4 linked regions of the Homo sapiens genome follow. The protein of the gene in region 1 interacts with the protein of each later gene in a pairwise test. Each region holds a gene or a part of one and is shown in the gene's direction. Other genes may lie near its edges.

Evidence for each region.
Region 2: the proteins of SAXO4 (region 1) and PLEKHN1 interact in binary tests that used the Homo sapiens proteins (3 or more experiments, as listed by UniProt).
Region 3: the proteins of SAXO4 (region 1) and UNKL interact in binary tests that used the Homo sapiens proteins (3 or more experiments, as listed by UniProt).
Region 4: the proteins of SAXO4 (region 1) and DTX2 interact in binary tests that used the Homo sapiens proteins (3 or more experiments, as listed by UniProt).

The regions. Positions count from the first base shown.
Region 1 is NC_000011.10:61,484,119-61,491,136, forward strand, and holds the end of SAXO4 (stabilizer of axonemal microtubules 4), read left to right. Parts: intron 1-569; coding exon 570-698; intron 699-1,219; coding exon 1,220-1,283; intron 1,284-1,680; coding exon 1,681-1,793; intron 1,794-2,225; coding exon 2,226-2,285; intron 2,286-2,405; coding exon 2,406-2,492; intron 2,493-2,829; coding exon 2,830-2,943; intron 2,944-3,027; coding exon 3,028-3,122; intron 3,123-5,663; coding exon 5,664-5,828; intron 5,829-6,382; coding exon 6,383-6,452; 3' UTR 6,453-6,466; intron 6,467-6,695; 3' UTR 6,696-6,810; downstream 6,811-7,018.
Region 2 is NC_000001.11:969,466-976,367, forward strand, and holds the end of PLEKHN1 (pleckstrin homology domain-containing family N member 1), read left to right. Parts: intron 1-811; coding exon 812-958; intron 959-1,055; coding exon 1,056-1,136; intron 1,137-1,220; coding exon 1,221-1,293; coding exon of another isoform or gene 1,294-1,413; coding exon 1,414-1,541; intron 1,542-1,611; coding exon of another isoform or gene 1,612-1,647; coding exon 1,648-1,743; coding exon of another isoform or gene 1,744-1,754; intron 1,755-1,858; coding exon 1,859-1,939; intron 1,940-2,609; coding exon 2,610-2,685; intron 2,686-2,822; coding exon 2,823-2,959; intron 2,960-3,395; coding exon 3,396-3,545; intron 3,546-3,720; coding exon 3,721-3,861; intron 3,862-4,034; coding exon 4,035-4,175; intron 4,176-4,367; coding exon 4,368-4,586; intron 4,587-4,850; coding exon 4,851-4,899; intron 4,900-4,976; coding exon 4,977-5,110; 3' UTR 5,111-6,400; downstream 6,401-6,902. Other genes in the region: PERM1 (PGC-1 and ERR-induced regulator in muscle protein 1), read right to left, coding at 6,707-6,804. UniProt on the Homo sapiens protein: Controls the stability of the leptin mRNA harboring an AU-rich element (ARE) in its 3' UTR, in cooperation with the RNA stabilizer ELAVL1.
Region 3 is NC_000016.10:1,411,701-1,419,573, reverse strand, and holds the start of UNKL (putative E3 ubiquitin-protein ligase UNKL), read left to right. Parts: upstream 1-4,869; 5' UTR 4,870-4,882; coding exon 4,883-4,959; exon of another isoform or gene 4,960-5,122; intron 5,123-5,518; coding exon 5,519-5,728; intron 5,729-7,322; exon of another isoform or gene 7,323-7,645; intron 7,646-7,873. UniProt on the Homo sapiens protein: May participate in a protein complex showing an E3 ligase activity regulated by RAC1. Ubiquitination is directed towards itself and possibly other substrates, such as SMARCD2/BAF60b. Intrinsic E3 ligase activity has not been proven.
Region 4 is NC_000007.14:76,492,697-76,499,714, forward strand, and holds part of DTX2 (probable E3 ubiquitin-protein ligase DTX2), read left to right. Parts: intron 1-4,640; coding exon 4,641-4,781; intron 4,782-7,018. UniProt on the Homo sapiens protein: Regulator of Notch signaling, a signaling pathway involved in cell-cell communications that regulates a broad spectrum of cell-fate determinations.

The DNA.
Region 1 (7,018 bases):
TGTAGTCCCAGCTACTTGGGAGGCTGAGGCACAAGAATTGATTGAACTCAGGAGGTGGAGTTTGCAGGAAGCTGAGATCATGCCACTGCACTCCAGCCTGGGCAACAGAGCGAGACTCTGTCTCAAAAAATGTAAGTAATAAATAAATTAGAAGCGAAGGAGTTGCAACTGCAAATCGGGAGGGTCGGGAAAGAGCTTGCTATGGAGACACTGGACAAAAACTTGAGGGAGGCCAGCTCCTCCAGTTGCAGCTGTCTGAGGGAGGAGTGGTCCAGGCAGTGCCAACAGCAAGTGCAAAGGCCTCAAGGTGGGAACAGAAAGGAGACAAGCAGCTAGAGCAGGGTGAGGCACTCAGGTCCTTGCAGGCCACCAGGAGGACGTGGAATTCCCTGCGAGTGTGATGGGAAGGCTGCAGGGCTCTAAGCAGAGAGGGGACATGCAGGTTTCATTGTAAAAGGACCCCCTCTGGCTGCTCTGCAGATACTGCGCTCTGTAAAGGTCAAGGGCAGAAGCAGAGTCAGGGAGTGACTGCCGCCCCCTCACTTGTAATTGGCCCTTCTTCCTCCCAGGTCCGGAAGGTCCATTTCGACACCCAGGAGCACGGGCCTCAGGCCATCACGGGGCTGGAGCCCAGGGAAGTGCCTCTGCTCCACCAGCAGCAGGGCCAGGACCCGCTGGAGCGGGAGAACTTCCGACATGTGAGTGGCAGCCCAGCTAAGGGCTTCGGGGTGGGGCAGAGGGGCCACACCCGCCTCTTCCTCCCACCTCAAGACAAGTATTGCACTGACTCACCCAAGAAGCCAGCTCAGGGTGGGCTCAGGGCGCCAAGAAAGATGGGAGAGCAAAGGATTTGATATTGGCTATTTCCAAAATAGCCTCAATGTGGCTTCTCGCGATTTAACGCTACTCCTCTTCCCCCAGCCTTCCTCCTCCTGCTCACGGCCCCTCCTGGTCTCGGTCCCTCTGGGCCCCCCACTCATTACCAGGAGTCTGGTGTGGGGTGTGACGTGGTATTCATAGTCACAGGGGAACTGTGCTTTGTGCTGAAATTCCTGGCCCTGCGATGTCCCACCCCACAGAGACTTGTGTCCAGGGTGCTGTACTGGCCCACACAGGCTTCCTCAGAGCACAGAGAACCGAGGCGCCACTCCACCGCCGCCACACGCCTTCGGGGCCCTGGTGGGTCAGTGCCCCCACTCCTCCAACCTCTCTGTTCCAGGGCCCACGCTTCATGACGTCGGAGTACAATTCCAAGTATCTCAGGGACCCTCTAGACCAGCCAGGTAGGCCCTGTCTGAACTCACAGCTCCCTTCCCATCTTCCAATCCACCTCCCTACTTGCTACCCCAGGGGCCCTGGAGCTGGCCTAGGACTGAGAAGGCACCAGTGGAAGAAAGAAGGATGCACAGGTGGCTGGAGGGAAGCGCCTCTCCCGGGCTGACCTCAGTACCTTGGGCCTCTCAGGAGGGTGGCTTGGCCGGTGCATGCCCTTCCTGCTGCTCCCTCTCCTGTCCTCCGGCCTGGACTCTGGAATCCTCACCCTGCCACCCACGATCCTCATGGCGCAGGTCTCCAGGATCTTGGGATCCACTCCCTCTGCACCTGCTGGGACACTGAGCCTCTGGAGGACACATGGGTGGGCCAGGTGGCCTGGCAGCACACAGGGCATTTCTTTTGCAGATTTCTTGCAGAAGAAATCGATCGGCGCAAAGGAGGGGAGTGGCTTCACCAAACAGTCCCACCAGAGCCCCATTGTCTTCCAACCGCCCTCACAGGCCCTCCCTGGGGACCCTGTAAGTCGGCTGGGCTCCTGCTAGAACTTTAGGGGGCTTGAAGCCCTCCAGTCTCAGGGTTTCTAGCTTTCCTAAAGAATGTGAGCTGCAGAGCCCTTTGTTCAAACACAAGACGAAAGAGCTTAGGTGAAAACCACTGCTTTGGTCCAAGTCCCCCATTTATAGATGAGAAGACTGAGGTCCAAAGAGATGAAGGAGGTGTAGCCAATGTCATTCAGAGTTCAGACAAGAGCCCTGGCCTGCTGGTCCCATTCAGAGTCATGCCTTCCCCTGTCTTCTCCCCAAACACTTCCCTTTTCTCAGTGATGCCCATTTGAGCTGAGTCCTCCTCTGTGCTCAGCACAGCAGTGGCCTGGAGGCAGAGTGGGTGGGAGCCACCAGGGGCCCAGGCTGCCTCTGCGGGGCTGACATCCTCTGTGGGCCTATTTCCAGGCCCTCCTCCCAGGCCAGAGTGTCACCAAGTCAGACTTCCTCCCCAAGACTCACCTACATGTAAGCTGAGCTAGGGGGAGGCTGGGGACCGCCTGGCGGGGAGCAGTTAGAACATGGCTCTGGAAGGTGGTGGGGGAGGCAGCCACATCCTGGTGCCAGTGGCTGCTTTGCTCCCTCCAGGGAGATGAGTTCCTACCTGTGTTGGCCAGAGGCTCCAAGCGGGAAACAGCCTTCAGCCGAGGGAATGAAAGGATTCTGAACCCCAGAGTGAGTGGCCTTGGCGTCTTGCTCAGAGAAGGGAGAAGACAGGGAGGTTTCTGGGAAGAGGTGGCATTTGGGTCAGGCATTGAAGAATGAGAAGAATTAGGATATTTAGGGATGTGGAGGTAGGCCCTCAGGTGGAGGGTGAAGAGAGCCTGGGCCTTCCTGGGGGCTGGAAGATGAGGGGTGTGGTCTGAAATAGAATTGGCTGGAAGGGGAAGGGAGGGTCGCTGGGGCTGTGGACAGGTCACAGCTGTGTGTGCCTCTGCCTGCTCCCCTCTCCATCCCTGCTGCCTCAGGCTGGCCACCTCAGCCTCCCTTCTGGTGGTTCTGTGCCCTGCAGGTGCCCCCTCCCTGCCCAGAACCCAGCAGCGTGAGTCACCAGCAGTTTCAGCCACTTCATCGGATGCAACAGACAAACGTTGCCCTGCTTGGCCGGGAGACTGTGGGGAAAAAGGTGAGACTTGCTACACCTAGCCTCCACCCCCAAATCCCCACCCCTTCTGACTTGACAATTCCCCTGTCTACCCCTCTTGTGCAGGAGCCCACAGGGTTCAGCCTTAACAACCCCATGTATGTCCGGAGCCCCTGTGATCCTGACAGGGATCAGCGATACCTGACCACCTACAACCAAGGGTGAGGTCCGCTTCCTGGTCCAAAGCTGAAACCCATTTGAGAAACAGACTGAGACTGGGATAAGTAATGAGCTCACAGCCTCGTGGAGAAGATCAATGCTGAGTGAATATGGGTTCCCCAGAAGCATACCCTAAGCCAAGGATTGGAGTGCAAGCATGTTATCAGGCAGTTATTAGGCGTGTGGGAGTGGAGAAGAGGGATGAGGGAGGGAAGGCAGCAATAATGAGCATGTTACTAGGCCAGCTATCCCACTGGGAAAACTCTAGAAAACAGTGTAAAGCACACAACTCAGAACTACCCCAGTCAAAGGTGAGAGAGCTGGGGTATTTATACCCCCACATCCATCGGTCATTGGTTAAAGGCTATCCCCAGGGCAACATTAAAGCCCAGGTGCCTCCTTGCTCAGGCAAAGCAGCTTCTAGCATCCCAAGGGTAGCTTTCCCACAGAGATGCAGGGCATTGGTGGCCAGGCTGGTGGGCATGGAAAGAACAGGGCAGTGCGAGGGAGTCTGGAGCAGCAGCATCTGCTAAGACATTCCATCCAGCCAATGGTTGGTGGGCTCGATGCTCCCTCAGAAGGTAAATTCTGTGCTGTGCATTCCCTGGGTTAGGAGTGACTGTCCTGGGCATCAGGGAGGGCTTCCAGGAAGGAGGTGGCCCCAGAGCCATGGGGAAGCCTCCTGGGGCCAGGACTGGGTGGGGAAAGCATTATAGGAGTGGTATAAAGGAAGTGTAATTCTTCTTCTTCTTTTTTTTTTTTTTTTGAGATGGAGTTTCACTCTGTCGCCCAGGCTGGAGTGCAATGGCGTGATCTCAGCTCACCGCAACCTTCGCCTCATGGGTTCAAGTGATCCTCCTGTCTCACCCTCCTAAATAGCTGGGATTACAGGCATGTGCCACCATGCCCAGCTAATTTTTGTATTTTTAGTAGAGATGGGGTTTCGCCATGTTGGCCCGGCTGGTCTTGAACTCCTGACCTCAAGTGATCTGCCTGCTTTGGCCTCCCAAAGTGCTGGGATAACAGGCATGAGCCACCGTGTCCTGCCAAGAAGTACAATTCCTTTTTTTTTTTTTTTTTTTTTAAGATGGAGTCTCTCTCTGTCGTCCAGGCTGGAGTGCAGTGGTGCGATCTCGGCTCACTGCAAACCCCGCCTCCCGGGTTCACGCCATTCTCCTGCCTCAGCCTCCCGAGTAGCTGGGACTACAGGCGCCTGCCACCACGCCCGGCTACATTTTTGTATTTTTAGTAGAGACAGGGTTTCACTGTGTTAGCCAGGATGGTCTTGATCTCCTGACCTCGTGATCTGCCCGCCTCCAGGAAGTATAATTCTTAGGACAAACTCCGAGCCAGGAAGCGCAAGCTTTCCTCACAACATCAGTCACCTGTGTCCACCCTGCTTCCTCTCCAACTCCTGGTCCTTCAAGGTGTCCCTGCCACCTCTCTGTCTCCTCCCCCTGCCCCACCCCCTGCTCCGGGATACCTCCCAGAATCCATTCATGGAATAGACTTTAACTGAGCCCTGACTGGGTGCCAAGCCCTGCTCCAGGCCCTGGGAATGTGTGTGCAGCTCCTGCCCTACGGAGCTCAGACCTCTGCATGGGAGGAGACATGCATGTGGCTGCAGCCAGTTAGCGAGAGCTGTTAGGTAATGCGCAAAGAGAAAGGGATCGCGAGGGCTGCAGTGCGCACGGGTCGGATTTGAAATCGGTGGCCTTGAGCAGGTGACGTTTGAACTGAGACTGAAAAGAGGGGAGGGCGGTGTCCTGGAGGAGCAACAGAGAGTCTGAGCTGGAAGGGCCGTTTGTTGTCCTCTGGCCTAAACCCTGAGGCTCAGAGGGGAGGAGCAGAGCTTCCGCCCGCACAGCAGACTCAGCACAGTGGCCGCTCCAGTTCCCACGGAGGTGGGGGAGGGGCAACGATGTTCTGACCCCTTCTTAGGCAAACACCTCCTCCTGTGGCTCTGGCAGAGACCAGCTCCAGTCCTGTCTGCTGGGTCCTTCCAGCCTGTCGTGTCCTGTTGTGTCCTGAGCTCCTGCTGGCTGTCAGGCACGCTTGCTGGTGCTTCCTGGTGCGCGCAGAGCCCCGGGATTGTCATCACTGATTCCTGCATTGATCTGTCTGCACCCCCTCTTCATAAGTTCAAGGGTGGGACCCCCTTCTTACTTGTCTTTGCACCCTCTGGACCTGGCTGTGCTCAGTGAAATGGAAGGAAATGGAAATGAAATGGAAGGAAAGTTAAGTGCCTAGAGAAGTGGATGAGACGGGGTCCCCACCCCAAGGTACTGGCAGGCCAGGGACAGGGGCATCACTGAAACTGTCCTTTAACACTCCAAAGAGTGTTTCAGCGTCAGGTGGAGGGGAGGGCAGGCTTTTTGAGTAAGAGTTCCCCCAGTGGACGTGGGCTTAGGGAGAGCTAGACGAGGACAGCATGAGCAAAGGTGGGGAGGCTGGGCGATCTGAGGGTCGATGGAGAAGGGCAGCAGGGGTTGCAGAGGTGGGCAGAGTCCAGCTTCCAGCCAAGGACCCCTCCTCTCCTCCAGGTACTTTGAGAACATCCCCAAGGGTCTAGACCAGGAAGGCTGGACTCGAGGTGGCATCCAGCCCCAGATGCCAGGAGGCTACGCCCTCAGCCAGCCGGTCAGCTGCATGGAGGCCACCCCCAACCCCATGGAGAGCCTGCGGCACCTGCATCCCCACGTGGGAAGGTGGCACCACCCCCAGCTCTGTTCTTTCTCCCTACCCCTCATCCAGGCCGTGTGCCAGGCCTTTCCCTTCCTCTCCTCTCTTGCTGTCAGTCCGGTTCATTCCTATGAGAGGCCCATCTCCTCTGGCTGGCTCTGGTGTCCCTTCTCCTGCTAGCACAGGCTCCTCCCCTCCTCTCCTTCCAGTGACCCCTCCCTCAGATGGCTCCTCCTCCCTCTCCTGCCCCTGTTCCCCAGGCCCGGTGGACTGGATGGGGAGGATCTGAGCAAGGGGCTCTGGGGTGGTTCAGATCCAGAGGGGGATGCGGGGACGGATCCAGAGATGAATGGACTGTGGTTCGGCCTCACTCAGCTCCTTTCTGCTCAATTCAATTCCTCAGAAATTACATTTATATCAACAATGGCCCAGAGTTGGCAGGCAAAGAATGTTTGTGGCTTGGCTGCCCTGGCTGAACCCTGGCTATGCTCTCTCAGGGAGGGTCAGGCAGAAGACAAGAAGACAAGGTCCATGCCCTGCCTGCCAACACCCCCAACACTCTCCTCTTGCCTCCCTGCAGAACCCTGACCTCAGCTGACCCCTTCTACCAGAACACACCTCACAGCAGCCGCTGCGTGGCACACAGCTGAGCCCTGAGCCCTTGGTAAGGGGCTGGGGATCCCCACACTCAGCTGCTCTGGTTGTGTGGGCAACCGTTATGGGCCAGCCCTGCCTCTCAAGCCCTGGGTTAAGCAAGTCCTGCCTGGGGACCCCCCTTCCAAGTGGGGGGTGACAGATCAGGGGGCCTCTCAGAACCCCTTCTCTGCCAGGCAAGCACACAGAACCACCCCAGAGCCCCTTGCTCAGGCCTCGCCTCTGCTTCTCCTCTACAGGTTTGTCAATCCTAGGGGACAGGAGCCAGGCTACTGTCTGTACCCCCACTCCATCCCCCAGGGGAACACCCCTGCCCAGCTACTTTCCTAATGAAATAAAGAGCATTGAAGCAGAGAAGTGTGACATCACTATCAGGGTGGCTGGAAAAAGGAGGGGTGAGCTGGGGCGGTGGGTGCAGGGGTGGAGGAGCTAGGGCCAGATTTGGAGTCGGAAGGGCTCGGCTGGAACCTCTGAGGAACCATGACACGATGGATAGGCACTTCATTCTCCACGCTCAGTTTCTTGTCCTGTAAAGGGGTCCTCTATGGCCTGTGCTGCTTGG
Region 2 (6,902 bases), on another chromosome or scaffold:
TGCAGTGTGCATGTGTGCATGCATGTGTGTGCATGTGTGTATAGGTGTGCATGTGTATGTGTGCACGTGTGTATGTGCACGTGTGTATGTGTATACATGTGTATGGGTGTATTTGCGTGTGGATATGTATGCATGTATGCACGTGTGTGCATATCTGTGTATGTGCAACTGTGTATGTGTGCACGTGTGTATCCATGCATATGTGTGCGTGTGTGTACATGTGTGTATAAGTGCGTATGTGTGTTCCCGTGTGTATGCATCTGTGTCTGTATTGTGTGGCATGTATGTGTCTATTGTGTGTGTATGCATGTGTGCGTGTATGCATTTATACATGTGTATGTGTGCGCATATATGGATGCATGCATGTTGCCTGCATGTGCACGTATCGGGTGTGTGTGCGTGTACGTGTACACGAATATGCATGTATGCATATATGTATGCACGTGTGTGTAAATTCTGCCGTGACTGTTTTCCTGTGGAAAGGCTGAGTGTGCAGGTTCTGTGCCTGTGGGGGGCTGTTCTTCACGTATGTGTTGTGTGGCTGTGCACAGGTTCTGTGCCTGTGGGGGGCTGTTCTTCACGTATGTGTTGTGTGGCTGTGCACAGGTTCTGTGCCTGTGGGGGGCTGTTCTTCACGTATGTGTTGTGTGGCTGTGCACAGGTTCTGTGCCTGTGGGGGGCTGTTCTTCACATATGTGTTGTGTGGCTATGCACAGGCAGACCATGCTATAGTCCTGTAGCTGTGTGGATGCGAGCGGAGGGGGTGGGGGGCCCAGGGGAGGCCCCCTCCCCTGAGCTCTACTCCTCCTAGGACATCCTGGACCTGGAGAACCAGCGAGAAAACCTGGAGCAGCCATTCCTGAGTGTGTTCAAGAAGGGGCGGCGGAGGGTGCCTGTGAGGAACCTGGGAAAAGTTGTGCATTACGCCAAGGTCCAGCTGCGGTTCCAGCACAGCCAGGTGGGGGCCGGGCTGGGTGGAGCACGCTAAGGGTGCAGCATCCCCATCAGCCTGGGGCTCCCCAGACTCCGCACTGACGACCCTGCTCCCCGCGCAGGATGTCAGCGACTGCTACCTGGAGCTATTCCCCGCCCACCTGTACTTCCAGGCCCACGGCTCGGAAGGACTCACATTTCAGGTGAGGCGGTGGGCAATGGGGTGGGGCCATGGCCGCCCTTCCCTCCATGGATCCCTGAAGCTCCTCCTACCCTGTGCCTGGCAGGGGCTGTTACCGCTGACGGAGCTGAGTGTCTGCCCGCTCGAGGGGTCCCGAGAGCACGCCTTCCAGATCACAGGTGTTTGGGATGCTTCCCGGGCCCCCAGAGGCACTCCTGACCCAGGACTTGGAGAGGGGCCTGCCCTGTGGCTGCGGAGCACGTGTGTGTATGTGTGTGCCCTCTCTGCCCTGCCCGCAGGCCCACTGCCCGCACCCCTCCTGGTGCTCTGCCCCAGCCGGGCCGAGCTGGACCGCTGGCTTTACCACCTGGAGAAGCAGACGGCCCTCCTCGGGGGGCCGCGGCGCTGCCACTCGGCACCCCCACAGGTCAGTGCCGGGGACCCCACCCCCCTCCCCACCCTGATCCTCGCAGCCGGCTCTGACCTCCTCCTCACAGGGGTCCTGCGGAGACGAACTCCCCTGGACTTTGCAGCGCCGTCTAACCCGGCTGCGGACGGCGTCAGGGCACGAACCCGGCGGCAGTGCTGTCTGTGCCTCGAGGGTCAAGCTGCAGCACCTGCCCGCACAGGTGGGTGGGAGGTGCGTGGGGCTGTAGGGGGATGGGAGGGGTGCATGGTGGTGGGCAGGGCGGTGCAACAGCAGCTCAGTTCCCTCATCGCCTGACCCCACCCCCACCCACCCAGGAGCAGTGGGACCGGCTCTTGGTCCTGTACCCAACGTCCTTGGCCATTTTCTCCGAGGAGCTGGACGGGCTTTGCTTCAAGGTGGGCCCCTCCCCACTGTGGGCCCGCCCCAGGGAGGCAGCTGTGTGGGGGTGGGAGGGGGCAGCCATGCAGGAGGAACCTGTATTTCGGGGCTTGTTGAGACAGAGCGCAGGGCCCTGCCCACCCAGCCCGCGGTCCTGGTCAGTCTGGTCTCCGCTGTGACATGGAGGAGCCCCTGCCCGCCCTGAGGTTCTCACCCTGAGGTTCTTGACCGTCACCCTGGGGCGGGCAGCATGGGGCTGAGAGCCCCTCCCGGGGACTCCCTTGTGTGTGCCTGCCCGTGAGGCGTGTGTGTGCACACGTGCGTGTGCGTGTGTCCTCCAGGGCGGGCTCCGGGAAGGGGGTGTGCACTCACGGTAACCTTCAGTCACTGAGGAACAAACACAGGGCCCTCCCCATGGTTCACCCGGCCCAACTTCTTCTCTGGGGACCCCAAGAGGCCAGTCCTGTGGCTTTGTGTGTCTGCCCCTAGCCGGCGAAGGCCCCCGCGCCAGGGTTGGTGGTAGCCCCAGGAGACATGGGACCCACTGGCCTCCCTCAGGGTGGTGGCCTCGGTGCCCAGCTCTCCAAGTACCCAGCCAAGCTCTGGAGGGCAAGAGGGTGGGATGAGGCCAGGCGGGGCCCCGGGGCTGCCCCTACAAAGGCCTGGCCCTCAATCTCTGCTCCGCAGGGGGAGCTCCCACTCCGTGCCGTCCACATCAACCTGGAGGAGAAGGAGAAGCAGATCCGCTCCTTCCTGATTGAAGGTAGGGCCCTGACCCTGGTTCTGCCTCCCGCCTGGCCAGGCCATGGTGGGGCGGGAGCCTGGGGGACGCCCGACTCTTTAGTGGGGGCGCTGAGGGGTGCACCCCCCCGCCAGCCCCTCACAGCATCTGTATGCCAGGCCCCCTCATCAACACCATCCGCGTGGTGTGCGCCAGCTACGAGGACTACGGTCACTGGCTGCTGTGCCTTCGCGCTGTCACCCACAGGGAGGGGGCCCCGCCGCTGCCTGGTGCCGAGAGCTTCCCAGGGTCGCAGGTGAGGGGTCAATAGGCCCCACAGCCCAGGTCCTGGGCAGTGGTAAAAAGGGGGCAGCAGACCGGGCGTGGTGGCGCACGCCTGTAATCCCAGCATTTTAGGAGGCTGAGGCGGGCGGATCATTTGAGGTCAGGGGTTCGAGATCAGCCTGACCGACGTGGAGAAACCCTGTCTCTATTAAAAATACAAAAAAATTAGCCGGGCATGGCGGTACATCCCTGTAACCCCAGCTACTCAGGAGGCTGAGGCAGGAGAATCGCTTGACCAGGAGGCGGAGGTTGCAGTGAGCCGAGATCGTGCCACTGTACTGCAGCCTGGGCGACAGAATAAGACTTCGTCCCAAAAAGATAAAAGGGGGGACAGCACGGTGGGTCCAGGCAGGGGCGGGTGGGGAGGGGGTCCAGCCCTCACTCACCCCCACTCACTGCCCATCCAGGTTATGGGCAGTGGCCGAGGCTCACTCTCCTCAGGCGGACAGACCAGCTGGGACTCGGGGTGCTTGGCGCCCCCCTCCACCCGCACCAGCCACTCCCTGCCTGAGTCCTCAGTGCCATCCACCGTGGGCTGCTCCTCCCAGCACACACCGGTGAGCGCTTACGGGGTGGCAGACGAAAGTGGGGCAGAAGGCTGTCGGGTAGGTGTGTGTTGGGGACCCTGGTTCCTCAGGGGAACTCAGACTGGAGGGAGCCCCTTGCAGCCTCAGAGAGTTGCACGGGAGAGGGGCCAAAGGGCTCTTCCTGGAAGGTTTGTGGTCCCCACAGGACCAGGCCAACTCTGACCGTGCCAGCATTGGCCGACGGAGGACCGAGCTGAGACGCAGTGGCAGCAGCCGGTCACCCGGGAGCAAGGCCCGGGCAGAGGGCCGCGGCCCTGTCACCCCACTGCACCTGGACCTGACCCAGGTGGGCCCAGCACACCCACACAGCCCCTGGCCTGGTTCCCACCGTTCCGCACCACTGGTCTCTGTCTCTGGGCCCAGTTGTCCTGGAGCCACCCAGAGGCCTCTTGCACAGAGAAGGGGTGGCCTAGGCTGTTTCTAGCCGAGAAGCCCATTTCTCCCACCTCTGCCCTGCAGCTGCACAGGCTGAGCCTGGAGAGCAGCCCAGATGCCCCTGACCACACTTCGGAAACATCACACTCGCCCCTCTATGCCGACCCCTACACACCACCCGCCACCTCCCACCGCAGGGTCACAGATGTCCGGGGCCTGGAGGAGGTCAGGCCCCTGCTGGGTGACAGAAAGGGTGGGAGGTGCCTGCAGCCTGAGGCTGGGGAGGTCTAGACCGTGCGTCTCACCCTGGGGTCTGGGGCTGCCCCAAGCCTGAGGTCTGTTCAGGCTCTGATGGGAGGTTGAGGTTCTGGGGGCCCCTGGCTGCCACCCAGGCCCCAGCCCTGGCTCTCCCTGCAGTTCCTCAGTGCCATGCAGAGTGCACGTGGACCCACGCCCTCGAGCCCACTCCCCTCGGTGCCTGTGTCTGTGCCTGCCTCTGACCCTCGCTCCTGCTCCTCCGGCCCCGCTGGCCCCTACTTGCTCTCCAAGAAGGGAGCCCTGCAGTCCAGAGCCGCTCAGAGACACCGGGGCTCAGCCAAGGATGGGGGGCCGCAGCCCCCAGACGCCCCTCAGCTTGTGAGTAGCAGCCCCCACGCCCGTGTGCCCCGGGCTCCGGGCTGGCCGGGGGTCTGGTGTGGGGCCTCTTGGGACTCTGAGGGAGCAGGGAGGGAAACAGGAGGACGGGGGCAGATGGAGGCCAGGGGGGCCAGTAGGGAGTTGGGGAGATGGGACTGGGGAGGGAGAGCAGGGGGACATGGGGGGCTGCACAGTGACAGGCCGCCTCCAAGCTCCCTGCCTGGGGCTGTGCCCGGCTCTCAGACTTGCGGTTTGGGGTTCCAGGTCTCCTCTGCCAGGGAAGGTTCGCCCGAACCCTGGCTGCCTCTGACAGGTGAGTAAGGATCCTGCCTCCTGAGGTGAGTGCCTGTTGCCTCCCACAGGCTGACACATCTCTGCCTTCCCTACCAGATGGTCGGTCCCCCAGGAGGAGCCGGGACCCCGGCTACGACCACCTCTGGGACGAGACTTTGTCTTCCTCCCACCAGAAGTGCCCCCAGCTTGGAGGGCCTGAGGCCAGTGGGGGGCTTGTGCAGTGGATCTGATGGCCGCGGTGAGGTGGGTTCTCAGGACCACCCTCGCCAAGCTCCAGGGTACCTGCCCCTCTAACCCACTTCAAATTACAAGTCAGGGTCTGAACCCAGTGTGATGGGGGGAGTCTCTGGGGCCCTGAGTTCAGAGCCCGTCCCTCAGCTCCTGTTCCTTGGTGCCAGCAGCTGGGGCAGGGAAGGGTGGGAGGGGCCCCATCCAAAGGATGCCCTGGCCAGCGAGGCTGGGTCACAGGTCAGGGAGGTCCTGGCCGTCCACAGGGTCGGCCCTCAGCTCAGCCCGCCAGGAGTCAGGGAGGAGACTCGCTGGGAGTGGGAGGGCAGCACGGGCGTGAAGGTCGGAGGACAGAGAAAGGTCAGCAGGGTCAGAGTATGTGAGGTCAGAGGGCATGAGGGTCACAGGTCAGCAAGGTGTGAGGAGCACAAGCCAGGGTGCCCCGAGGAGGAGGGTGGGTGGGTCCTTGTGTGGCCTGGCGCGCACCACAGGGCAGCACGGGAGACGTTGACACCACCGGACGAGAAAGAAAAAAGAGAGAAGAGAGAGAGGAGAAGAGAGAAAAGAAGAGAAGAGAGAAGAGAAGAGAAGGAAAGAGAGAGAGAGAATAAGAAAAGGAAGAAAGAAAAAGAAAAGATAGAATTTTATTGGTGCTGCATCCATGTGTTCTCTGCTCAGCAGCCAGGGTCTCCCACAGTCTTGAGGACCCCCACCCAGCACCCAGCCAGGCAGCCCCCTTCCTCTGCCACCTCGGGCCCCTCACCGACCTTCCCACCTCATCTCTGACTCCTCTTGGCTGTGGGTCCCCAGCTGCCCCACAGGAGCCCCCGGGACAACCCCAGGAGCCCAGCCCTCCATCTGAGGCCACCGAATTCTCCCTCTGCACCTGCACCCAGGGCTCCCGGGGAGGGGCTCGCGGCTCTGCCACAGACCCCCACCCTGCAGGGGCTGCTGCACTGGGGAGGGGCAGGCAGAGCCTTCGCTGTCTCAGGCCAGAGCCCGCAGAGGCCTTGGCCACAGTCCTTTGAGGATCAAGAGTGATGGGCCTTGGAGCCCTTGCCAGCCCAGCCCACCTGTGAGGAGGCTGCCCATCCCCTCTTTGAGGCCACCCTGTGTCCTCTCCCCTGCCTCTGCCCAGAGCTCCAGCCGGAGTGTCTTGCTGCTCAGACCCCTCCGAGGTCCAAGTCCTGTCCTGCCACTCAGCTCCCCCTGCACCCCAGAAGAAACGCAGGGTGCGGTTGCATTTGATTTCAGATAAACAACAACTTCTTAGTAAAATGACCTCCCCACTATTGCCTGTCTGAAATTAACCGAATGCCCTGTGTTCTCATCTGTGAATCTGGCCACCCTCCTACCCAGCCACCTGCCTGCCCTCCACCCACCCAGACTTTAGCACCTCCCTCCCAGGCGTGGGGAGTGGCCGTGGTCACTGGCTGGATCCTCAGGTGAGTCGGAGGGAGCAGCACCAGGACACGCCCCCCTCCTGGACGCGGTAGAAGAGAGGGGTCAGAGGGCCCGGGCGAGGGCGGCACCTCGTCCTGCCCTGGGCGCCTGTGGTCGTCTCCTCATCCTGCATCTCCCTGGCCCGGGCCTGGCTCCTAGGAGCTGGGGCTGGGGCTGTGGCTGCGGCGCCCTTGCCCCACCTGCCGGCGGAAGTAGCGGATGGCAGAGATGGTGCCGACGTTGGCCAGCAAGGCTGCAAGAGAAGCACAGGCTCTTCTGAGGGCCAGCCTGGCTGTCGGCACCGTCTGCCCGCAAGACCCAGCCCTCAAAGGGCGGGCAAGGTCGGTGCGG
Region 3 (7,873 bases), on another chromosome or scaffold:
TTTGGGAGGCTGAGGCGGGCGGATCACGAGGTCAGGAGATCGAGACCATCCTGGCCAACACGGTGAAACCCTGTGTCTACTAAAAAATACAAAAAATTAGCCGGGCGTGGTGGCGGGCCCCTGGAGTCCCAGCTACTCCGGAGGCTGAGGCAGGAGAATGGCGTGAACCCTGGAGGCGAAGCTTGCAGTGAGTCGAGATCGCGCCACTGCACTCCAGCCTGCACGACAAAGCGAGACTCCGTCTCAAAAAAAAAAAAAAAGTTTCGTTTTCCTTTTTTTTTTTTTTTCCAGAGTGGGAACTGAGGAAAGAAACCTACATATATATTACCGAATAGTACCAGAAATGAGGAACTTTTGCAGTTTTCTGCAAAACTTTTTAAGCAAGGCAACCATTTTCTGAGTAGAATACAACTAGTGAGTATTTCTTTTCACAAATGATGGGCACTATTTTGGGTTACCTAAGTGATTGTTTTTTGTTTTTTTGTTTTGTTTTGTTTTGTTTTTATTTTTGAGACAGGGTCTCACTCTGTCTCCCAGACTGGAGTGCAGTGGCACAATTTTGGCTCACTGCAACCTCTTGTCTCCTGGGTTCAAGCAGTTCTTCTGCCTCAGCCTCCCGAGTAGCTAGAACTACAGGCTTGTGCCACCACACCCGGATAATTTTTAAATTTTCAGTAGAGACGGGCTTTTGGCATGTTGGCCAGGCTGGTCTCAAACTCCTGACTTCAAGTGATCTCTCCTCCTCGGCCTCTCACAGTGCTGGGATTACAGATGGGAGCCACCGCGCCCGGCCCCAGATTGTTTTCTCTTTTTTTTTTTGAGATTGAGTCTTGCTCTGTCACCTAGGCTAGAGTACAGTGGCTCCATCTTGGCTCACTGCAACCTCCACCTCCTGGGTTCAAGCGACTCTCCTGCCTCAGCCTCCAGGGTAGCTGGGATTACAGGCACGCACCGCCACACCCGTCTAATTTTTGTATTTTTAGTAGAGACGGGGTTTCGCCATGTTGGCCAGGCTGGTCTCAGATTCCTGACCTCAAGTGATCTGCCCGCCTTGGCCTCCCAAAGTTCTGGGATTATAGGCATGAGCCACTGCGCCCGGTCAATTGTTTTCATACATATATACCTATACATGTTTCAGAGACATGCAGCAGATCCCAAGTGCCTCCAGGGCAGCGATCTGGGAGGGCTTTTCCAGTTGCTGACCTCACACCTGTGCCGTAGACAGACCCAAGGCCAGCTGGGGATGGTGGGCGGATCTTCCCTACTCCTGGAGTTTTCAAAGGATGGCAACAGAGCAGGTTGATAGGTGAACAGTTAATTCAGTACAGTTAGTATTTATTATTATTTTTTGAGATGGAGTCTTGCTCTGTTGCCCAGGCTGGAGTGCAATGGTACAGTCTTGGCTCACTGCAACCTCCGCCTCCGGGGTTCAAGCAATTCTCCCGCCCCAGCCTCCTGAGTAGCTGGGATTACAGGCGTGCACCACCATGCCCGGCTAATTTTTCTATTTTTAGTAGAGACAGGGTTTCACCATGTTGGCCAGGCTTGAACTCCTGACCTTAGGCAATCTGCCCACCTCGGCCTCCCAAAGTGCTGGGATTACAGGCAGGAGCCACTGCGCCCAGTTGTATTTAACTATTTTTGTAGTGTGTTTGTCTTGTTTTCCCAACTGGGCTGTAGCTTTTATTTTCCCCAGGGTACATGGCACACTGACCTCCCCAGATAAGCATTTGAGAGGGAGACCATTGTAAGCATGCTAGAACAGACGCAGCTGCAGCGATTCCTAAGATGACAAATGGCTGGGCAGGAGGTGGAAATTGTTTTTTGTTTTTTTGTTTTTTTTTTGAGACGGAGTCTCGCTCTGTCACCCAGGCTTGAGTGTGGTGGCACGATCGCGGCTCACAGCAACCTCTGCCTCCCGGGTTCAAGCAATTCTCCTGCCTCAGCCTCCTGAGTAGCTGGGATTACAGGCGTGCACCACTGCGCCCAGCAATTTTTTTTTGTATTTTCAGTAGAAACGGGGTTTCACCATGTTGGCCAGGCTGGTCTTGAACTCCTGACCTCAGGTAATCCACCCACCTTGGCCTCCCAAAGTGTTAGGATTACAGGTGTGAGCCACTGCACCCAGCCGGAAATTGTTTTAAAACAAAAATTCTTGAACGGGCGCAGTGGCTCATGCCTGTAATCCCAGCACCTTGGGAGGCCGAGGCGGGCGGATCATAAGGTCAGGAGATCGAGACCATCCTGGCTAACATGGTGAAACCCCGTCTCTACTAAAAATAGAAAAAATTAGCCAGGCGTGGTGGCGGGCGCCTGTAGTCCCAGCTACTCAGGAGGCTGAGGCAGGAGAATGGCTTGAACCCGGGAGGTGGAGCTTGCAGTGAGCTGAGATCATGCCACTGCACTCCAGGCTGGGCGACAGAGTGAGACTCTGTCTCAGAAAAAAAAAAAAAAAAAAAAATTCTTTCAAGGAAGATGTTAACCAAACCATCTCAAAAACAAAAACAAAAAATTCTTTCAAGGAAGGTGTTAACCAAATGGTCACGTCTAAGCTGATGAACTGTCTATATAACTCAGGTACCACCCTAGACTTTAAAGAACATTTCTTCCAAAGCATGAAAAAACATGATACTTTCAATCCTTAAGTCTTACATCAGTTTCCTTTGATTTCTTCAAGGAAGATGCCCCCAGGGTGTGGAGGAACAGCAGGTGTCTTCACTCATACCTTTACAGCAAAGATCCCCAAATTCCTAAACCCTAAGGCTCCAAATCTGTTTCCTAGCTTTAGCAGGCTCCCTAGACACCTCTGCTGGACAGCTCACAGGCTCCTTAAACTCCAAAATGGAATTCATCTCCCCCAAACCTGTTTCTTCTCCCTTGCTCTGTATCCTTGCAAGCGAGAGACCTGGGCGTCACCCTAGACTCCCTTTCCATTCCTAGCACCTTGGGAGTCTTCAAGATCTGTTTATTCGTCTCTGAAGAATTTGCAGGCCCTGCCCTTCCTGCTTGACTTCATTTTCCTGCTTGACTTCACTTGAAAATATGTTCTTCATTATCATTTTAAGATTTAAATGTAATGTTTGTAGAGATAATTCATTAAGAAAATGTGATCCTGGCTGGCGCGGTAGCTCACGCCTGTAATCCCAGCACTTTGGGAGGCTGAGGCAGGTGGATCACCTGAGGTCGGGAGTTCGAGATCAGCCTAACTAATGTGGAGAAACCCCGTCTCTACGAAAAATAAATTAGCTGGGCGCGGTGGTGCATGCCTGTAATCGCAGCTACTCAGGAGGCTGAGGTAGGAGAATTCCTTGAACCTAGGAGGCGGAGGTTGCAACAGTGAGCCGAGATCGTGCCATTGCACTCCACTCTGGGCAACAAGAGCAAAACTCCTTCCTCCCCCCGCCCCCCGCCAAAAGAAAAAGAAAATGTGAACCTATGAAGAAATTTATCCTACCAGCAAATGATAGTTTTTGTTGTTTTACAGTATTAATATTAAAAAAAACCCTGAGATACTTGGAACAAATCTGTAGGAAGTGATTTGCTTTCAACCTAAATGGGCCCATTTTTCTTTTCGTTTTTTTTTTTTTTTTTTTTTTTTTTTTTTGAGACGGAGTCTCGCTCTGTTGCCCAGGCTGGAGTGCAGTGGCGCGATCTCGGCTCACTGCAAGCTCCGCCTCCTGGGTTCAAGTGATTCTCCTGCCTTAGCCTCCTGAGTAGCTGGGACTACAGGTGCCCACCACCACGCCCGGGTAATTTTTTTTTTTTTTTTTGTATTTTTAGTAGAGACGGGGTTTCACCGTGTTAGCCAGGATGGTCTCGATCTTCTGACCTCGTGATCCGCCCACCTCGGCCTCTCAAAGTGCAGGGATTATAGGCGTGAGCCACCGCGCCCGGCCAATGGGCACATTTTTCATATCACTAAAAATTTCTTTTTTATTTTTTGAGACAGGGTGTTACTCTGTCACCCAGGCTGGAGTGCAGTGGCGCAATCTCGGCTCACTACTAAACCTCCGCCTCCCGGGTTCACGCCATTCTCCTGCCTCAGCCTCCGGAGTAGCAGGAATTACAGGCGCAAGCCACCACACCCCACTAATATTTTTGTATGTTTAGTAGAGACGGGGTTTCACTGTTGGCCAAGCTGTTGTCAAACTCCCGAACTCAGCTGATCCGCCGGCCTCGGCCTCCCAAAGTGCTGGGATTACAGGCGTGAGACACCGCGCCCGGCCTCCTACCACTAAAAATTCTTCGGAAGCACTGTTTCAAATCACGCAGAGCACTTAGAGTTTTCCCTTTTCTCAGCTACTGCGCTGTTGGGGGAAGGGGGACCTCAAGTGTTTGCAAAATAACTGTGATAATTACCTTTGTAGATAAATCTCTGAGTATAAGTTTTTGAGGTCAAGGTTCGAAATGGAACAAATTCCTTTCTACAAAGGCCAGGACCCCTTGGCCCTTCCGCCCGGTGCCTGGCTCCCCCTGACATCAGCCTCTTGGTTCGTTTGTGGAAGAGCAGCTCTATTGAGATACAACTCTTGTGATTAATTCATGTAAAATACACGGTTATGTCGGGTCATGTCACAGCAGGGGCGACCATCGCGGGTCCCACGCGCGGCCCCGGGCAGGACCAGCGTCCCGGGCCGGGGGCTGCAGGGCAGGGCAGGGCAGGGCAGGGCAGGGCAGGGCAGGGCAGGGCAGGGCGGGGCGCGGGGCTGGGGCGGGGTCTGCGGGCCGGGGGCGGGGCTGCGGGGGGCGCGGGGCTGGGGCGGGGCCGGGGTCTGCGGGCTGGGGGCGGGGCCGCGGGGGGCGTGGCCGCGGGGGCGCGCGGGGATATCCGGGGGCGGGGGCGCCGGCGCGGCGCATGCGCGCTGCATTGTTTTGACTGAAAATGCCGTCGGTTTCGAAAGCGGCGGCAGCGGCGCTGAGCGGGTCCCCCCCGCAGACTGAGAAGCCGACCCACTACAGGTCAGCGCCCGTCCGGCCTGCGGCCCCCCGCCCGCGCCCGGTGCAGCTCGGAGCCTCCCGCCGGGGCTCGCGCCGCCTCCGCCGCCCCCGCGCCCCCCGGCCTCCGCGCAGCGCCTGGGCTGGGGGGGCCACGACCCTCTGCTCTCGGCGGCCTCCGCCTGAGGTCGGAGCGCGGCGCCCATGGTCTGGGATGGCACCTGGTTCCGGGGTCCACGCGCCTCTGGGGAGGGAGGAACGCCCCGGGGTTGGGGGTTGCGCCTGGGCTCGGGGACCGGGACCCTCTGCTCCGGCTGCCGACCGTGAGGTCACAGCGGGTCGCCCAGGGTCCGGGGTGGCGCTTGGGCTTGGGGACCAGGGTCAGCGCCTGGGCTACGAGGTCGGGTGAGGGTCGCGTCTGGAGTCGGGATGGGGGTGGGCGCAGCGCCTGGGGCCCGCCGGGAATGTGAGTACGGGTCGACCCTGGGTTGAGGCTCCTGAGGCCGGTGGGTCCCGCCGCCCACGAGTCCGAGTCCCTGGAGGTGCTGCCGGAAGCGAGCCGCGGCGCTGTCTGTGTTTGTAGGTACCTGAAGGAGTTCAGGACGGAGCAGTGCCCCCTGTTTTCACAGCACAAGTGCGCGCAGCACCGGCCGTTCACCTGCTTCCACTGGCACTTCCTCAACCAGCGGCGCCGCAGGCCCCTCCGCAGGCGCGACGGCACCTTCAACTACAGCCCCGACGTGTACTGCTCCAAGTACAACGAAGCCACCGGCGTGTGCCCCGACGGCGACGAGTAAGCGGCCGCGAGGGGGCGCCGCTGCCTGGGCGGAGGTGGGGGGCCTCCACCCGGGGATGCGGCCGGGACCCTCAGCGGACGCCTTAGTGTCCATACCTGGCCCCTGCAGAGGGAGTCGTAATTATACGCTGAAATTTTCTAGTGACCAGGGATGCTGGGGCGGCATTTCCTATTCTCAGGCCAGTTCCCGAGGGATTATGTGTGTTTTAGGGGTAACCCTTGTGTGACTCAAACCAATTTTGCTTCACCTCCCACTTTTTTTTGTTTGTTTTTTGAGACGGAGTTTCACTCTTGTTGCTCTGGCTGGAGTGCAATGGCATGATCTCGGCTCACTGCAGCCTCTACCTCCCAGGTTCAAGTGATTCTCCTGCCTCAGCCTCCGGAGTAGCTGGGATTACAGGCATGTGCCACCATGCCCAGCTAATTTTTTATTTTTAGTAGAGACAGGGTTTCTCCATGTTGGTTAGGCTTGTCTCGAACTCCCAACCTCAGGTGATCCACCCACCTCGGCCTCCCAAAGTGCTGGGATGACAGGCATGAGCCACCGTACCCGGCCCCACTTTTTTTTTTTTTTTTTTTTTTTTTTTTTTTTTTTTTTTGAGACAGGGTCTTGCTCTGTCGCTGGGGCTGGAGTGCAATGATAGGATACGGCTCACTGCAGCCACCAACTCCTAGGCTCAAGTGATCTTCCCTTCTCAGCCTCCCAAGTAGCTGGGACTACAGGCTCATGCCATGCCAGCTAATTTTGCATAGTTTTTGTAGGGATGGGGTCTCACTACATTGCCCAGGCTGGTCTTGAACTTCTGGGCTCAAGCAATCCTCCTGCTTCAGCCTCCCAAAGTGCTGGGATTCCAGGTGTGAGCCACTGTGCCTAGCTGTTTCCCACTCTGATTTGACACAGTTCCTGCATGAGAACCAACCTCTGGCCAAGTGCCTTGTTTTGTGTTTCTATAGAGACAGGGTTCTTGCTGTAGCCTGGTCTGGTCTCAACCTCCTGGGCACAGCGATCCTCCCTCCTTGGCCTCCCAAAGTACTGGGATTCCAGGCATGATCCACTGCGCCCGGCCAGGTTTTGAAGCGTTTTGTAGTGGTCGGTTGCTTTCCACACAGAGAGCTTGTTAGAATATTCACGCTGTAGAATATATCTGGGATGTTTCGTCTCTTGATGTTTACGTATTTATTTTAATTTTAAGACAGTAAAGTTTTTATGTGCAGGCTCATTTATGTAGCATCGAGACTGAGTCTCGCTCTGTCACCCAGGTTGGAGTGCAGTGACTTGATCTTGGCTCACGGCAACCTCTGCCTTGTGCAGGTTTAAGTGACCTGCCTCAGCCTCCTGAATAGCTGGGATTACAGGCACCCGCCACCACGCCTAGCTAAGTTTTTGTATTTTTAATAGAGTTGAGGTTTCGCCATGTTGGCGAGGCTGGTCTCGAACTCCTGACCTCAGGTGATTCTCCCTCCTTGGCCTCCCAAAGTGCTGGGATTACAGGCGTGAGCCACCACGCCTGGCCCCTATGTAGCACTTTTAAAGTTAAGAAATCAAGGTTTTGTTTTGGTTGATTTTTTTCTTTTTTTACAAGGTTCCTAATAGTGTTATGAACAGATGTCTTTATTCTGAAGTATGCAAAATGGGAAAACAGGGAAAATACAAGTCAGATTATATATTCACAGACTGGCGGGAGGTGGTATCAGGTTCTACTTGCTTCCTGTGGGCTGCTGGCGGAGGGTGGAGGGCGGAGGGTGGTCCATTCCTGCCTAGGGGTGAGACAGCAGCAGTTGCGGTCTTGAAGTCTTCATCCCCTGATCTTTTGGAAGGAGCTGATTCTCCAGGGACCTTCCTGTTGAAGGCTGCTTTCAGCACGGAGATCCTTGTGAAGTCTGTTTTCCTTTATTTTTTCAACAGTGCTTAGCCTAGGCGATAAATTAAAAAAAATTTTTTTTAAGGACGCTAGAAACTTTAAATACTGAAATGTTTTTAATTGTACATTAGTTAAATAGTGTTTGTTTTGTTTTTGTTTTGAGACGAAGTCTCTGTCACCCAGGCTGGAGTGCAGTGGCGCCATCTCAGCTCACTGCAACCTCCGCCTCCCAGGTTCAAGCGATTCTCCTGCCTCAGCCTCCCGAGTAGCTGGGATTACA
Region 4 (7,018 bases), on another chromosome or scaffold:
GGAACTGTTTTGGGTTTGGTTTGGTTTTTTGTGAGACAAGAGTCTCGCTCTGTCACCCAGGCTGGAGTGCAGTGGCGCTAACCCAGCTCACTGAAGTCTTGAACTCCTGGGCTCAAGCAATCCTTTCACCTTAAGGATCCTTAAAAATACCTACTGCTGGCCCCCACACCCATTCTGTTTTAGCAGCCTGGCTAGCAGGGTTTTCAGAAGCTCCACAGGTGGCAGGATTTTTTTTCTTTTTTCTTTTTTTGAGATGGAGTCTCTCTCGCCCAGGCTGGAGTGCAGTGGTGGGATCTCGGCTCACTGCAACCTCTGCCTCCCAGGTTCAAGCAATTCTCCTGCCTCAGCCTCCCGAGTAGCTGGGATTACAGGTGCATGCCACCACGCCCGGGCAATTTTTGTATTTTTAGTAGAGATGGGGTTTCGCCATGTTGACCAGTCTGGTCTTGAACTCCTGACCTCAAGTGATCCATCCGCCTCGGCCTCCCAAAGTGCTGGGATTACAGGCATGAGCCACCGTGCCTGGCCATTTTTTTTTTCTTGTTATAAGAGACAGGATCTTGCTCTGTTCCCCAGGCTGGTGTGCAGTGGTGTAGTCATAGCTCACTGCAGCCTCCAACCCCTGGGCTGAAGCGATCCTTCTGCCTCAGCCTCCTGAGTAGCTGGGATTACAGACACATGCCACCATGCCAGGGAAGTTTTTTATTTTTTGTAGAGACAGGGTCTCACTATGTTGCCCAGGCTGGTCTTGAACTCCCAGGCTCAAGCCGTCTTCATGCCTTGGCCTCCCAAAGTGCTGGGATTCCAGTCATGAGCTGCCACGCCCAGCTGAGGTTATTTTCTAACTTCTGGAAAGTTCGAGGTATGTAAGGAGGTGGATGGCGCCATCGTTGTTCACAGGGTGATGTGGCGGAATTCAATAATGAGTTGGTGTTTTAGGGGAGTTGCTGTCATAGTGGCTGAGAGGGGACAGGCCTGGAGGTAGGGCGGCTGGTGCAGAGCCTGACCTCAGACCTGGGGGCACCAGCCAAGGCCTGACCAGCTTCGAGGCAGTGGAGTGGAGGGGGAGGTTTGGCTTGAAACATTCAGAGGCATGAGCCGTCAGGCGGGGGGTTGTGAGGGGGGATTGGGGGTAGACTGAGGCCTGCTGGAGTGCAGCCAGTCACAACTGAGGAGCAGCCTGGGGCTTGGCGTGTGTGAATTCATTTCGTCCTTAAATCACTGAGGTGGAGGCTTTTGTTCCCATTTTCATTAGAGGAAACTGAGGCTCGGAGAATTTAAAAATTCTCTGCCAGCCCTTGGCAGAGCTGAGACACAGCCCCGGGCCTTCTTGCCTATGACGGTTCAGTGCTGCTGAGTCTAGGGGGAGGTTGGGAGGGGGTGATGGCTGTGGAGTGGCCGTTGGAGCTGTTCCGGGGCAGTGGGATTTGGCTGTGGGCCTCAGAAGAGCAGTCTTGGGTGGAATGGGGTGCCCCTGACCCCTCGTGGGAGCGTGTGTGCCACAGAGACCGTGGGCAGGACTGAAGAGAAAATGAAGGAGCGGCCAGAGAGGTGGGGGCAGGAGGGAGAGGAGCTGGAGTGGGGCAGGGGAGACAGAATGAGCAAGACACACTGGCCAGAAAGTCCCTGCCCACTGAAGTCACCGTGCGGCGCCGTAGGGAAATCACAGTGTACCGTGTGTGCATGTGCGGCCGTGGTGGCATTGGAGACAGGTTGTGGGTAAACAGACGGGGCCCCCACACGGTTCCTCATGGCCCAGCTCCTTCCAGTTCTGGGGCTCTCGCAAGCCTTCGTGGCCAGGCCTGACAGTGAGCGACCTCTGAGGCCATGACACAGATCTAAGTGCTCTGGGTGTGGAGTTAGCACCTGCCCCCTTCCTCTGCTCTTGAGGCTGAAGGTCCTGTCCAGGCTGTGTCCCAAATTGTCCATCCTGTTGTCTGTCCCCGTTGCTCTCAGAGCAATCCTGGAGCTAAAGCAGGTATTTTAACATCCATTTTACTTGTGGGGAAATAGATTCGGGAAGCTGGTTCAGGCCTAAGGAAATAGGAGAGCCTGGAGGCTGTGTAGACTCCTGCCTCCCCCAATTCAAGGCCCAGTGTTGGTACCTACTGGGGGAGCATTGTCTAGGGGAGCAGGGAATGAGAGGAGCCTGGCCAGCACCCCGGAGCCAGAGCTGGAGAGCAGTGTCCTGTCACCCTGGTGTGCTTGTGGGTTGAGGAATTATACCATGCCCGGCTGCGGAGACGAGCGTTTGCGCACAGGCTTTTTGCAGAGAGGTTTATAACCAGGAGGTCATGCTTTGGAAGGACTGAGTGCTGGAGGCACTGCTTCCAGGTGACAGTGCCTCCAGGTGACAGCTCCCCTGGCTGTGGCATAGCCCAGTCCCTCTATCGGGTGGGGGCAGGGACTGTGAGGCTGGAGCCAGGGTCTCCACCCCTCACCTGGTCACAGCAGCGGTCCATCCACAGCTCACACTGCTGCCTGGGGCAGGGATGGGTGTCAGCAGCCTGCCCAGGACTGCTCAGCTGGTGAGGGCTGGCACTGGGCTCGAACCCAGGCTGGGGAGGTCAGAGCGCACAGAGGAGAGGCTTGGATCTCAGCCCTGGCCCTGGGTGTCAGAAGGAGGGGTGTCTGCAAATTGGAAGTGAGAATCAGTGAGTGGGGGCTTCACTCTTCAGGGCTCTGACAGCGGGAATCCTCCCAGATGGGTGGAGAAAAAGGCTGTGGCCCTCCGAGTTATTCAGGTGTTTTGGGGGCTGTCAGGAGTTTGGGGGGCTGTCCCTAGCCCTCCTCCTCTCCAGGCTTCTGGGTTGAAACTTGTGTGTTTGTGACTTGAATTCAGGGGAGTGGGTCCTGCATTGAAAAGGACACGTGTGTCACTCATGCGGCCTCCTGGGGGCTGGTGGTGGCCCAAGGATGTCTTCATTCCTCAGCAAACACAGAGGGCTGCAGGCTTCCCAGGGATCAGGCACTGCCCCAGCGGGGTGCTGGAGATGCAGCTACGGGTGGGACCTCGTGGAACTCGTGCTGAGGGAAGACAGTCCATAGAAACAGAGGGGAGTGCAAAGCAGGAGTCCAGCAGGGTGGGGCGGGAGGCTTGGAGGGACAGGCCCCGTCAGGCAGTGTTCAGGGAAGGCCTGCCCGCTGAGGCAGTGTTGCCGGAGAACCCTGGGTAGGGAGACGTGTCCTGGCCTTTGGTCCTCCCAGACGACGTGGGCAGCGCAGAGGCACCAGATTCTCTTGAGGAAAACTGCACCTGTCCTTGTCCTCTCTCATCTCTCTGCCACCCGCGCCCGCTTGTCCTTCTCTCCACCCGACATTCAGTTCCCACAGGAACCGCATTTGAGCCCAGGAACAAGCTTGGGATGTTGGGGGCATTGAGCTCCCGGGCTCAAACCTCTGTCCTCTGATGCACGCTTTGGTGTCTCCTGCTGAGGGCCACTGCAACTCACCCTGCCCACCTCGGCTCTGCTGCCCAGGCTGGTGGCTGGTCTCCGCTTCTGTCCCCACAGCCAGGCACATGTGCCGGGTTGAGAAGCTTTGTTCTTCTAGTGGGGGCGCAGTGGCTGGCCTGGCCGCCCTTCACCCCTGAGTCACGCCATCTGTTCCTGGATGGGGAGTGGGGTCCAGGAGGACTGGGATTTCTACCAACTCCCCCGGCAGCCGGCTGTGCCCAGCTCCTGAGCCAGGTTCTGCAGACCCTGGAAGCCACCTTAAGAGATGGCTAAGAAGCTCTAGGCTTCCCCTTTCTCTGGAGAGGAGGTGCTTTTGACCTAACTGACCGATGACAGGGAGGACCGGGGAGCTGGCACTATGGAAAGTGGGGTAGGCCGAGGGTGTGGCAGGAACGGGTTCGTCCAGCAGGACACGCTGTGTCCCAGGAAGCGCTGGGTCATCAGGGAGCACGAAGGAAGCAGTGTCAGAGGAGAGTCCCCCAGGGCAAGTGTGGGGTTCCCTGCAGGCATCCGGCAGTGGTGAGCTCTGGAAAGAGTGGCCGGTCTGTCCCAGCATAGCTGCTGGCCACAGGCCCACCCTTGCCCGAGGGCGCCAGAGCCACAGCCTGGGGCCTTGCTGCAGCCCAGCCCTCACAGTATGGGGATGCTGCAGTGTGGGAGCAGGCCCAGGGGCCACGTTCCTGCCCGCCTACCCCAGCGCTGTCGCTGAAGGCCCTGGCACCCAGATCAGCCAGGAGGGGCATGGAGCACACACAGCACCCAGTGGAGGCTGGAGGCCTAGTAACTCCAAGCCAGGAGGGCCCAGGGCCTCCTGGGGAAGCTGAGCCCTTGGAGCCAGCCCCACCCAGGAGACCCCGTGCCCCGGGCGGCTTCCTGGAGTGGCGTCCTCCGCCCTCTGCTCTCCTGAAGTCACGGGTCCTGCCCCGGTGCCCACCTGCACACTGAGGGCACGGGCTTGTCTGTTGCTCCTATAGAAACCTGTGGGCTCTGGGGCCAGGGCTACCATGAGCCAGGCTGCCCCACCCTCTGATTCCTGGCCTGGGTAGTCCCCAGGGAGACCTGTGCGTCCCCGTGGCCATTGATGGTGTCACATCCTTGGCCTGAGCAGGGTTTGTTGGCGTCACATGCCGAAGGAGTCTTCTAATGTCTCTCCCTCTCTGCGTGTCTGCTCTCACACCCGTGCAGGCATGACGAGTGTTCTGATGTCAGCCATTGGACTCCCTGTGTGTCTTAGCCGCGCACCCCAGCCCACCAGCCCTCCCGCCTCCCGTCTGGCTTCCAAAAGTCACGGCTCAGTTAAGAGATTGAGGAAAATGTCCGTGAAAGGTAGTTCTTGTTCCCAAAAGCTCTCTGGCCTTTGCTAAGCCTCCTTCCGGCCTCGCTGCCTCTGACTCTTCTGCACAGACCCTCTTCCTTCTCTCTGCTCCCTGACTCCTGGGGGAAGGGGCTCAGTGGCCCTTCTCCCTGCCCCCGCTCGGCAGCAGAGGCGGCCCCTGGAAGCTGACTTTCCACCGCAGCCCCAGAGTTCAGCTCCTCTCCTCCAGTCACAGCTGGCATGAGGGGGCTTGTTCTTGAGGACTTTGTGATTTTTGTAAGCAACAAGTTGTGGGTGAGAGGCGGCGCCCGGCTCAGGATGCGGGGACAACCGTCCCTTCCGCCAGGGCCAGCACGTGTCTCGGGAAAGGCCCCCAGACAGCGGCCCAGGTCTGCTGCCCAGGTCTGCTGCCCTGACCCCCAGCCCTGTGTGGCCGCCACGTGGGCTGCTTGAGAGGGGTCCCTCGGTGACCCCTGCCCTGCTCGTTGCATGGCCACAGAAGAAGGGGCTTTAGGACCACAGCAGGTCCAGGGAGTTACAGCAAGACCTGCTCGGAGCAGCCTGTGATGGTCAAGTTCTGAACCTTTCCCAAGCGGGTGCTGGCCCTGCTTCCACCCCTGGGCTGTGGAAGTGTGGACTGTGGCCAGTCCAGACGCTCTTGAGTGGGCGTGGTGGCGGGCAGGGAGGGTGGCCGTGGCCCTGCTGGCCCTCAGTGTCTGTGTCATCTCAGCAGGTCCTCTCGGAGCCTCCGCTTAGCAGAGGGGCTTGGCGAGGTCTAGGAAATACTCGAAGCGCCTGGCATGCGGCAAGGGTGGCTTCCGATCGTGTCCGACCTCCAGCCCACAGGCGAGGAGGTGGGCTCAGGGAGGGGTGGGCCTCGAGCTCCTGCCCCCAGCCCAGGGCTCTGCACGCCCTGCCCTTCCCCTGCCCTGGGGGAGGAGCCAGACTCGTTGGCAGCCCGGGCTGGCAACCTTCTGTGGCACTCGGGTTTACCTGGGAAGGACACGCTCTTGGTGGGTCGCCTGGCTGGCCCCTTCTGAGACACGTGGCTAATGGAAAGCTCCCTTCTGCTCTGAAAAGCTGCAAGGGCTGGGGTGGGTGGGCGGGGGTGGGATGCTGTGCCCGGCCTCACCAGGGCTGGGCAGAGGCGAGGCCCAGGCTCACCCGGAGATGGCTCTGGAGTTGGCAGGCTTTTCCAAAGGAAAAGGCCCCCCTCAGCCTGAGTAGGGCATTCCAGCCACACGGAGGGCGACCCTGAGCTGGGGGCCATCGTTCTGGTCTGGCGTTCTCGCCACCGTGACAGGATTTGGGTTCGGGCAGTCTGTATGGGTGTGTGGAGGTGTGGGGTGTGTGGGGTGTGTAGAGGTGAGGGTGTGTGGGGTGTGTGGAGGTGAGGGTGTGTGGGGTGTGTGGAGGTGTGGGGTGTATGGAGGTGTGGAGTGTGTGTGGAGTGTGTGTGGAGGTGTGGGGTGTATGGAGGTGGGTGTGTGGGGTGTATGGAGGTGTGAGGTGTGTGGAGGGGTGAGGTGTGTAGGGTGTGTAGAAGTGTGGGGTGTGTGAGGTGGGGTGTGAGGTGTGTGGAGGTGGGTGTGTGGAGCTGTGTGTGGTGTGTGGAGGTGTGAGGTGTGTGGAGGTGTGGGGTGTGTGGAGCTGTGTGGGGTGTATGGAGGTGTAGGGTGTGAGGAGGTGTGGAGGTGTGGGGTGTGTGGATGGGGGTTGGGGGGTGTGGTCTTGCCAGCAGTTTCCCTCCAGGTCACAGCAGCCATGCCATCACAGCAATTCCAGCTTGGTTACATATTCGTCTTTCCCGTTTGAGATCAGGGAACCGAGGCTCAGAGGTGGCATGATTCGTTCACAGCAAGAGAACTAGAATTAAACAAACCGTGCCGACTCCAGCCTCCACCCCACCACGCCACCTCCCTGCCAAACTGTCCCCTCCCTGGCCCTTTTTGGTGTAAAGGGAGTTCAGCAGGTGCAGTTGTGAGCCCTCAGGCTTAGAATTCTCTGCAGCCCCTGAAGGCCGTGAGCTTGGATTCAAACCAGAGCCCCTTCTGGTCCTGGAGTCTGGGACGACCGCAGCCCCACCATGACCTTGGGGTGGAGCCCCTGTCAGGAGCGCCTCCACGGGTGGCACTGGGCTCCCCGTCCCTCTTTCACCCCCGCACGGGCTTGGCTGCTGGCTTCTGTGGTTCTGCTACTCCCACTACCTAGAGAACGCCCCGGGCCGCGCCGATCCTCACCAGCTCAG